3 linked regions of the Homo sapiens genome follow. The protein of the gene in region 3 interacts with the protein of the main gene of each other region in a pairwise test. Each region holds a gene or a part of one and is shown on either strand. Other genes may lie near its edges.

Region 1 (3,500 bases), on a different chromosome or scaffold from region 3:
TCACATAAGTTTGAAGCTTAATGAATACATATACACAATTTAGGGCATTAAGCAAATGGTTTTGATATTACATTTTTTTTTAAGGGACAGGGTCTCACTCTGTTCCCCAGGCTGAAGTGCAATGGCTCAATCATGGCTCACTGCAGCCTCAAATACCTGGCCTCAGGGTTCCTTCTGCCTCGGCCTCCCAAGTGTTGGAATTACAGGCATGAACCACTGCACCCAACCATGGTTTTGATAGTACTTTTTAATGAAAATAAGTGGTCTTATTGAGGCAGATACAATTTATTCAAATACTCAGACAGCTGAAGTAACCAGGAAGAAGGCAATCTGGGGACATGCACTTAATAGGTGAAAGCTCTTTTGAAGGATGCTCACACGTTTCCCTACCCAGTAAGTCCCTAGCTTTACATTTTTCTCTGGTCCAAAAGTACTTTATAAGTTTTACCTAGAAGGCCAGGTACAGTGGCTCATGCCTTTAATCCCAGCACTTTTGGAGGCTGAGGCTGGTGGATCATTTGAGGTCAGGAGTTCAAGACCAGCCTGGCCAACATGGCGAAACCCCGCCTCTATTAAAAAAAACAAAAATTTGCCGGGCGTGGTGGTGCACACCTGTAATCCTAGCTACTTGGGAGGCTGAGGCAGCAGAATCGCTTGAACCTGGGAAGCAGAGGTTGCAGTGAGCCGAGATTATGCCACTGCACTCCAGCCTGGGTAACAGAGCAAGACTCCATCTCAAAAAAAAGAGAGAAAAAAAAGTTGTACCTAGAAAATTAGGAAGATCAAGCAAAGCAGGCGCCTATTGCCTCTTGTTCTTTATTTTATTTTATTTTTATTGCTACCACTCAAGAGTCAATCTGGTAGTTCTTTTGGTCAAATAATCAAAGACAAGTTTAACTTATTTTTCAGATTCCTTAGGAAGATTAAGAAGTATCTGTGCAATCATACTACCATACTCTCTACTCTTTGCCCTCTTTTAAAAATAACTCACTTTTCAGGCATTATCCCATTTCTTGATCAAGGTTGCAAATAACCCAAACATTTCAGGTCTGTGTGCAGAATGACACTGCTCCAAGGAGTTTAGAGGTTGCCTCGCCAGTGTAAATATTTAGTTCCTAAGTCTGGAGGCATCTTTCAGTGAAGATCTTGTTCACTGCACAGGTATCTTTGAGACATGTGATAAGAGCTCCAATGTTAGGAAAAGAAGGAGGAATGAGAGGGGTTCTTCCCAGGTACCTCTTGGTTATAGCAGAGATAGTAGAAGTGAGTGAAAAGAGTTGGGAACATACCTGGGGCAGGTACAAGACAATGTTCAATGCCAGGGCCTTATTTATTCAGCAACGTGTTCTAGCATTTGGTTTTGAAGAGTTTAAGGATCCCTGACTGACAGAGCTACACAAAAATGAAAAATCTTGTAGGCATTGCATGAAAGCATTTTATATTACTTTATAGTTATATTTATGCAATTAAAAATGTGTCCAATGTCCTACATAGTTATATAATTCAACTGAAGGTTTAGCATAAATTAAATTTGGTGGAGTTTAAATTAACCAACCACTATAAAAATGCTAATATTTTCACAAAATAACTCATCTGGTTGAGTCACACAGCACAACAAAATATTCTCAGCCTAATATATATATATACATATGCCTTATATATATATATATATAATATATATACACACACACACTATGTCATACCAGTAAGAGTCCCCAATTTATAGCTCATATCCTAGAAGGATGCATGATGATTCTGAGTGGCATTCATATGGCTGGTCTCATTAAAAGGGGAGACATTTTCCTCAGCAGCTCAGGAAGGAACACTGTATGTGGGGAACATTTTTAAAGACTACAAAAAAACTGGACAAAGTACAGCTTGAGTTCCAGGTGTGGAACAGACCTGGCAATACAGGCTAGAAGTGAAGCAATCTTTCCATTCCCTTTCCCAGGGTATCTGCCTCTGGCATCCCCACACTTGCTCACCACTGTAGTCCCTGCAGCTAATACAGTGCCCAACTCATATGGGTGCTCAATAAGTATTTATGTCAAACCAAACAATTTCAGCTTCTTACAGTTTAATAACTCATTCTTCTAGTTCTGATTACACAGAGTCTCTAAAGGAAACTCTTAAGCTTTTGATTTCTGTTATAATCAAAGTCCCTTCCCCAGCAACCTGTACCAAGATGTTTTCTGGACAAACAGTGGCATAAATGGTACCCTGCTAAGCAACTGCATATTAATGTTCTTGACCTCAGTCAGACATAAAGATGTTTAATTCAGTGCATTTTAAAATGCCCATTATTTAGAGGTGAGGTTTATTACTGATCAAACCATGTGGCATACCCCTTTTAATACTGTTAATCTCCATACAACGACATCCAGGTTTAGTTAAGTAACATAACTCCCTGGAACAATGAGAGTATTGTGCTATGATATTTTCTGCATTCTCAGTATTTCATTATAATAGGGAGTCTCTACTTTCAAAATCATAAGCCAACCTAGTATATACATGCAAACTATATAAAACCATTAAGAGTAAGGACAAGTGATTGACAAAAAACAGTGGTCTTTTAATTTTTTTGTATTCTTACATAGAATTTATAAAATTTTTTACCAATACAAAATATAAGATAAAGTGGCTTGCTATGTGCTTCACCTCCATAGCAGTATCAAGAAAGAAATACGTAATTTAGAATCTCCTCGAACAAAACTTTTGTCTAGGAGCAAAGATAAACAAGTTTAAAATCAGCTATTAACTCTTGTCAGCCAAACAGGAAATATATTGATGTAATACTTCAGTAAATATTGACCCAAAGCTTTATTTTAAATCATATGATGCTTCTCACTGCTACCTCAATTCCAGTGACTTTAAATTCCATATGATGTAACACAGCCAGTAGGGAACAAATATGTCCTTCTTTGAACTATGACAAAAGTCAAAACGGAGAAACAGAAATGTTAGGAGGAGGATAAATCCATAAAACCCATAAATTATGCTAACTTCTCCACTTCAGAAGCCTATCCACTGTGCCATCTGCCTCTCTGACCAAGGGTCTTTTGAAAGAAAAGTAACCATCTTCTATTTGTAATGCTATGAAGACTGGGGCCAAAGAATCCACAAAACTGTTAAATGAATAGCTAATGAAAGATATGAGCTTGGGTTAGGGACAAAGGAGAAAAACAATGTTAGGAATAACTTAGAAAAAAGAGCACTTGGTTCTACATGTATTTCATAGTGTGTCATTGGTAAAGATGTCATATGTATGTTGCTACCTTGAAAACTAAAATAAATTCTGTTCACATTACAGAGACTATACGTAACATGGACCTGGAAAAGCTTAAAAATATGAAGAGGATTGAACTGGCTGCCATCTGTGCATCTTCATTTATGAAAACACTCCTCATAGACTTAAAACAAATGACAGAGAACAAATTAGTCAGCTTCTTCTAAAATACAGTGGTCTCCCCTTACCCTCAGTTTCACTTTCTGCAGTCAAC
Region 2 (3,736 bases), on a different chromosome or scaffold from region 3:
TCTGTTATGGTCTAAATATTTATATCTCCCCAAAAAGACATTGAATCCTAATCCCCAATGTGATAGTATTAGAAGGTGGGACCTTTGAGAATTGATTATGAGCCCTCCTGAATGGGATTAGTGCCCTTATAAAAAGAGACCCTAGGCTGGTTGTGGTGGCTCATGCCTGTAATCCCAGCACTTTGGGAGGCCAAGTTGGGCAGATCCCTTGAGCTCAGGAGTTCATGATCAGACTGAGCAACATGGTGAAACCATGTCTCTACAAAAAATGGAGAAATTAGCTGGGCATGGTAGCGCGCATTTGTGATCACAGCTACTCGGGAAGCTATGGTGGGAGAACTGCTTGAGCTCGGGAGGTTAAGACTGCAGAGCCGAGACTGTGCCACTCTACTCCAGCCTGGGCAACACGGCGAGACCTTGTCTCAAATAAATAAATAAATAAATAAAAATAATAAAATAAAATAAAAATAAAAAGAGACCCTGGAGAGCTAGCTAGCCCTTTCTGCCACGTGAAGTTATGGTGAAAAGGCACCATCTGTGGGGAAGAAGGCCCTCCCCAGACACCAAATCTGCTGGCACCTTGATCTTGAACTTCCCAGCATCCAAAACTGTGAGTAACAAATTTCTGCTATTTATAAGTTACTTGATCTATTTGTTACAGCAACCCAAACAGACTAAGATATCATCAACTGACACTGGCTTTTTTTTTCAGCCATGTAGAGTTTTAAAAAGTGAAAATATTAGGGACCAGAAAAAATATCCATTTAATACCCACCCCCCACCAACACACACACTATGGAGGAAAGGGATGGAGTAGGATTATTGCTTGGGGAACTGAGGTGGGGGTTAGAAATGAAGTCAAATAAAAGATTACATCAATGTCTAGTGGTTCACAACATGCAAAAAGCAGGATGGCAAGAAACCAAATTAACCATTCCAGTCTAATAAGAATTTTTCCTACAAGAAATTTTTAGAATTATAAATTTTGCATGTAACAGAGAGCAGAAAATATAATACACACAGATTTCATAATTTCATACAGTATTTGAGAAGCATTACTTGGAAAATGGGGTGAACATTATAACTGGTGAAAATTTGCTAAGAGACCATAATTAAAACAGAATAGTAAATGGTGCCTTAGCTCTTGAAACGGTCACTATCGGGATTCCATTTAATGTCTTCATTGCTAATTTGCAGTGCAAGTGGAAATTCATTCAATGTAAGGATGGTATCTAACTGTGAGATGTTGCCAGGGGCAGGAAAGTGGTAGAAAAATAAATGAAGAGGTTAGAAACAACACAACTTAATTAGGTAGATCACCCAAAACACAAAAAATAGAGTAAAATAAATGAAGAAAAACCCGAAACTCACTGGCAATAATTCTGAAGGGAATGAAAAAAGTGACAAATGTTGACATTAGCTATAAAAGTAATAACTTAGCCTCAAAAGACAAACAGACCATAGCTAGTGAAAACAACAAATTAAGAATCTATCAACAAAAGACACACCAGTCCACATGTCCTGTTTTTAAAGAAATCAGGGTAGGCCTGCCCTTCTCCATATTCTGTGTATACTTGTTTTTGTTTTATAGAAAACCTCATCTTGTTGTAATAAATATGTGTGTTGCTATTTGAGCCATATGATCTTGTTTCTCAATGATAGATAAGTGAGCGGGAGGTGGTAAGAGTAATTAGACAAATAAGGGGGAGGTATCACTGGCAAGGATGGGCAATGTTGGTGAGAACTAAGGTTTTGTGAGGCTAATCACTTTTTTACTGTGTAGGCTGTCAGAGCATGTAATATCCCATCGGAAAATCACATTGGAATGCTCTAAGCAAGTCCTTTGAGAATGGTCAAAAATGCATTACTCTCGAAGGGAAAAGATTAATGGTGACACTGATGGTAACAGAGCTTTTATAAAGTGGAGTTCTTACCTGAAAAGATGGGGAAAGAGAATATCAAAGGAAGGACAACAGTATTGGAAGTTGGAGGCTGAATTAAGGAGTAAGTTGAAATTAGGGAAACAAAAGGTAAGAACTTTCTGACTGAGAACCTCAGTATGTGCAAAGTGTAAGAGGAACAAGATTTAATAGTTAGGACACTGAAAAGAAGATATGGGAAAATGCCAAAGCAAATTTCCACAGGGAGAACATCTACTAGTTGCAAGAAAGGGTCCGCACATAATTGGTTCTACACTCTCATCTGGAACGTCCCTTGAGTCCTCCCAACCCCCGGATCCAAAGGCAAAAGCAGAAGCCCCAGGATATGCAGAAACAGGTACTCCTGATTTGCAAGACCCAAGAGAAACCAGCATTTGAGTTCATGACCTAATCTGGGGTTGCTCATCTTCTATGTGGGCTTAAACATTTAAGTACCTCCTAGGCTTAACCATTCAATTCTCTATTTTCTTCTTGGCAGGCAGATATGAGAAGAAAGCACCTGCATTAAGTGAGGCTCAATCTCCCAGATGAGACAGAAAATAGGGGACCTTGATCTCTTGCAATCATTTAAAGCCCCATAAGATCCAATAGAAAAAGGCTATCCTAATGGCCTCTTCAGGTAGTTAGGCTTAATTCAGCTGATCCTTGGTCTGTACACATGGACGCATGGTCTGTACACGACCTCAGTAACCCATTGTCCAGGACTAGTGTTTACCTAAGCCATCAGACCATGTGTTAAACATGACTATGTAGAGGGTGCTTTCTAAACAAAAGGAGATTTATAAATGAAAACTACAGTCTTCCCTCAGTATACACGAGGGACTGGTTGCAGGACATCCATATATAATGAAATCCACCAATATAAGTCCCCTATTTGGTCCTGAGGAATCCATGTACATATAAAAACTCTGTCCTCCCTATATGTGGCTTTCAAACCCTGCCAATACTGTATTTTTGATCTGCTTATATAAGTGGACCTGTACAGTTCAAACCTGTACAGTTGTTCAAGGGTCAACTGTATTATAAAAATTAGTTTATAAAATAAAAAATTGCTGGAATTATTTTTTTTAAAAAGTTTCCCTCAGGCTGGGCATGGTGGCTCACACCTGTAACCCCAGCACTTTGGGAAGCTGAGGTGGGCAGATCACTTGAGGTCAGGAGTTCAAGACTAGCCTGGCCAACATGGCGAAACCCGATTTCTACTAAAAAATACAAAAATTAGCCAGGTGTGGTGGTGCATGCGTGTAATCCCAGCTACTCGGAAGGCTGAGGCAGGAGAATCACTTGAACCAGGAGGTGGAGGTTGCAGTGAGCTGAGATTGCGCCGCTGCACTCTAGCCTGGGTGACATAGCGAGATTCTGTCTCAAAAAATAAATAAATAAATAAATAAATAAATAAATAAATAAATAAATAAAAATAAAAAATAAAAAAAGGTTCCCTCAACAAATGTCAAGCTTCCCCTTCGTGCTGAACTTCAGACATTAGCAGCCTCCAGGTCAAGCACCATTTTGCTCTTCAAAGGCCCCTAAACCTCCCACAGCCAAAGCTTAGTCACCTGCATTGGATGACAAAAGGAACCAAGCCATTTTCAACTTCAAATGACATTACAGTGAAGCTGTCCCAAGTTTCAAAGTAGGACTCATGAGTCAGCTGCCTTTTCAAGATATGACAAGGGGTATGGGAACAAAAGAGAAATCAGGGGAGATGACCTAGCCTAGGGTGGGAGTTGAAGACATCCTTAGAGAAGACACATAGGAAGGTAGTGAGAGGAGGAGGCAAGGTAGAAATGAAACAG
Region 3 (3,736 bases):
GGCCAGGCTGGTCTTGAACTCCTGACCTCAAGTCATCCGCCTGCCTTGGCCTCCCAAAGTGCTAGGATTACAGGTGTAAGCCAACATACCCGGCCTATAACACAGTTTTAAAACATAAACTAAGGCATTTATATAAATAACATGCCCAGTTCATAGAACTATATTAGTATAATTATAGTAGTTACAATTTACTATTTTAGTTATATTACTAGTTACAATTAGCTGTAATTTAGAAACCTTTTCCTTCTTAAATTTTATTTTTAAAACGTAATATTAGTGCATCCTACCTTTGCCCTGTGATAGCTAGATCACCACTGTATGCTGCTTACATGTAATTGTGAAACATGACCATATCATTTGTAAAACACTTCAACTGAAAATAATTAAGTGCAAATCAGTTTTATAACTACGAAAATAATTAAGTGCAAATCAGTTTTATAACTACTAAAACTGTTTAATAAAAGTGTTATGTAAACGGCAATAAGATGTGAATATTATTGATTAATATTATGTTCATAAATGTTCTTAAATTTTAAGTTGAAATATACAAAAATCTCAGGGTTCTAAAGACAGTCTTTTGGTACCCTATGTTCAAAATAGCTCTGAACCAAGAAAAACACACATGCAGATCTCTGCAGGTGCTGCCACTCCACCAGGGCATCCAGCATCCAGTCAAACACCAGATTTATGTAATTTACATGATGCGAAGTCTCAGAAAGGGCAAATCTAGAGACTTATGTGGTTGTCGAACAAGAGACATCATTCTCAGGTTAAATTAGTACTTCTAATGAGAACTGCCCTTCTAGCATCATGCCAGACCAGATAATCCATGACACCTACATACACATCTTAAATGCCTAGAAATGTTGAAGAAAATATAACCAACATTCTTTAAAATGCATAGCAAAATCTGTAAGGGGAATTCCCAGAGCCCAGAATTAAAAACCAAAAATTATAGTAAGCGCAACAAGCTGAGACTGCACCTGCCATGGGTGGGGTTTTGGGAAGAGGGAAGGGAGTAAAAGATGGTACTCAGTCTTAATAAAGTGGAGGTTTGGGTTTTGATGCCCTCATGGAAAAAGAAGATGAAATCTTAGGCCTGTATGTTGCAAGAATTTAGAATTGAGCGCCCTTATATCAATTAGGAAACTCGAATGGCTAGTCTTTCAGTAAATGCATGGACTTGAAAAGATATGCCTTATGACAGAGATAGCAAAGAAACTTACCAAAGAAAGCGTGGGCTCTAGAATGAGAAGAGAAATGTTTTTCCTGAGAATTCTAAATCCTAGATACATATACTGTGTAAACACTAGCTAACAAAAACAGCTTAAATGACTATATTATCAGATCAAAATATGTTTAAGGGAAAAAGCATTGTTAGAAACAAAGAACGTTACTGATAAAATAAACAACTCATCAAGAAAACAGTAACAATTCTGAATGTGCTGTATCTAACAATATAGCCAAAAGTATACAAAGTAAAAATGTGCAAAATTATAAGGAGAAAATGACATAGCTATAATCAAAGAGGGACATTTTCACCACAGTAACTGATAGGTCAACCAGACTAAAGATTAGTAAGGATATTGGAGATCTGAACAATTGGATAAACAAAATCAAGGGAGTGAATGAAGACACAATCCTACACTTAATGATTAAGGAACATTTAAGAAACATTTGTAAAAACTGATCCCATGCTAAGCCACAAAAGAAGCTTTACATATTTCAAAGAATTGACATTATTAAGACCATAATGTAAAGTCAGAATCTACATATAAAAGATCCCCCTATCATATGTTTGGAAACTGAAAAACTCATTTTCAAATAATTCTTGGATCAAAGAAAAAAATCAGTTACTATTATTGCTGAATGACAATGAAAATATTGGGTTGCCAATATCAAAATTTTGTGACTCAGCTAAAACAGTTGTAAAAGAGAAATCTACAGTTTCAAACACATACATTAGGAAGGAAGACAGATATTTAATGAGTTAAGTGTCCAACTCAGGAAGGTAGTAAAAGAACAACAGAGTAAACTCCATGAAAGAAGAAATAAAGACACTAGCCTAAGTTAATGAAACAGAGACTATCTCGTGATATTAAAATTTCTCTGGAGAAGGCAGAGTGCCTATCCCTTTAAGTGCTAAATGAAAAGATAAAATATTTTTACGATCCCAATTTAACCAATGAGTGGCTTACATAATATTGATAATTAACCCTCAAAACAACTCAATAGGGAAAATAATATTATTGGCAACCACTTGAAAAATGATGAAACTAAGGCAAAGGGAGGTTAAAGAACTGGCTCAAGATCCCACAAGTGGTAAGTGGAAGCCAGAATTTGAACACAATTGTGCTGATCCAAAAGCCTACGGTTTGTCTCTCAGCATCAATGCCTCTGTTCTTTCGTTAAAAATTTATAATTCTGGGATAATTGTAGATTCATGTACAGTTGTAAGAAATAAAGAGATCCCATGTATTTTTCACTCAATTTTCCCCAATGAAAACATCCTGTATAACTACAGTATACTGCAGGAAACTGACATTAATACAGTCCACTGACCTTTTCCAGTTTCATTTTTATGTGCACTCATGCATATTAAGTATATTTAGTTCTATGTAATTTTATCACATGTATAGATTTGTGTGAATACCACCAGTCAACACACAAACAACTCTATCACAAACATTCTTCATGGTACCCTGCGATAGCCATAGTTGCCTTCTCCCTTTACTTCAATTCCTGGCAACTACAACTCTGTCCTCATCTCCACAACTTTGTCATTTCAAGAACGCTATATAAATGGAATCGTATAGTAGGTAACCAATTGAAATTGGTTCTTTTCACTCTGCACAATTCCCTTAAGATCCATCCAAGCTGTTGCACGTGTCAATAATTTGTTCCTTTCTTACTGATGAGTAGTATTCCACGGCATAGATGTGGTAGAATAGGCAGATAAACAGACATGAGGAGGAGAAGGGCTGCCCTGAGAAAAGGAGTCTGGAAAATCTCATGCCCCAGGGATCACCCCAAACAGGCGTGCTAGATATGAACAGACAGGAGGGGAAATACCTAGGCAGAAAGGAATCCCCCTTAAGACCCCAGTGATTGCTCACTCTGCCAGTTAACCTGCCAGAATGTAGCTAGATGCATGCTAAAGGGAAGAGGGCAAAGGAGAAAATTCCTAAGAGATACGCAGAAGCAATTTGTGTCCAACATCGGGTTCACGCGTGCACACCAATAGTAAGGGAGGGTCCCACAACCTTGGGGCGGGAACTAGGTGAGGGAAAAGGCAGGGACTTAAGGCAGATGCAGAAAACTAAACAAAGTAAAAAGGCGGAGACTTAAGAAAGAGGCAGGAACTTCAAGAAAAAATCTGAAATCATAAAAACCCACCACTCTCGGGGTGCTGCTGGCTCACTCTCTTTCAGCAGCTCGCCCTGCCTCATCTTTTCAGAGTGTACTGTCTCTCTAGATAAACTCCCTACTCTGTATTTTCCTTCAATGAATTCTCTTTCTCTGGCTAAACCAGTAGCTTGGCAGAATTCTTTCTCCAAATAAGACTAAGAACCAAACAGTAATAGATGTACCAATTTGTTTACCCATTTACCCACTGAAGGGCATCTGGGTTTCTATGAGATTGGAAGAATCAAAATGTTTTTCCTACTCTCTCAACACAGAAGACTTCTGTGACCAAATGTGGGGTGAGGAGTTTCTCCTGACAACTAATTTTCTG

What was found.
Region 1: the proteins of UBE2E2 (region 3) and RNF103 interact in a two-hybrid assay, tested with the Homo sapiens proteins (2 studies listed by BioGRID).
Region 2: the proteins of UBE2E2 (region 3) and MARCHF3 interact in a two-hybrid assay, tested with the Homo sapiens proteins (one large-scale study listed by BioGRID and IntAct).

The regions. Positions count from the first base shown.
Region 1 is NC_000002.12:86,613,866-86,617,365, forward strand, and holds part of RNF103 (E3 ubiquitin-protein ligase RNF103), read right to left. Parts: exon of another isoform or gene 2,552-3,500; intron 1-2,551. UniProt on the Homo sapiens protein: Acts as an E2-dependent E3 ubiquitin-protein ligase, probably involved in the ER-associated protein degradation pathway.
Region 2 is NC_000005.10:127,020,425-127,024,160, forward strand, and holds part of MARCHF3 (E3 ubiquitin-protein ligase MARCHF3), read right to left. Parts: intron 1-3,736. UniProt on the Homo sapiens protein: E3 ubiquitin-protein ligase which may be involved in endosomal trafficking. E3 ubiquitin ligases accept ubiquitin from an E2 ubiquitin-conjugating enzyme in the form of a thioester and then directly transfer the ubiquitin to targeted substrates.
Region 3 is NC_000003.12:23,528,139-23,531,874, reverse strand, and holds part of UBE2E2 (ubiquitin-conjugating enzyme E2 E2), read right to left. Parts: intron 1-3,736.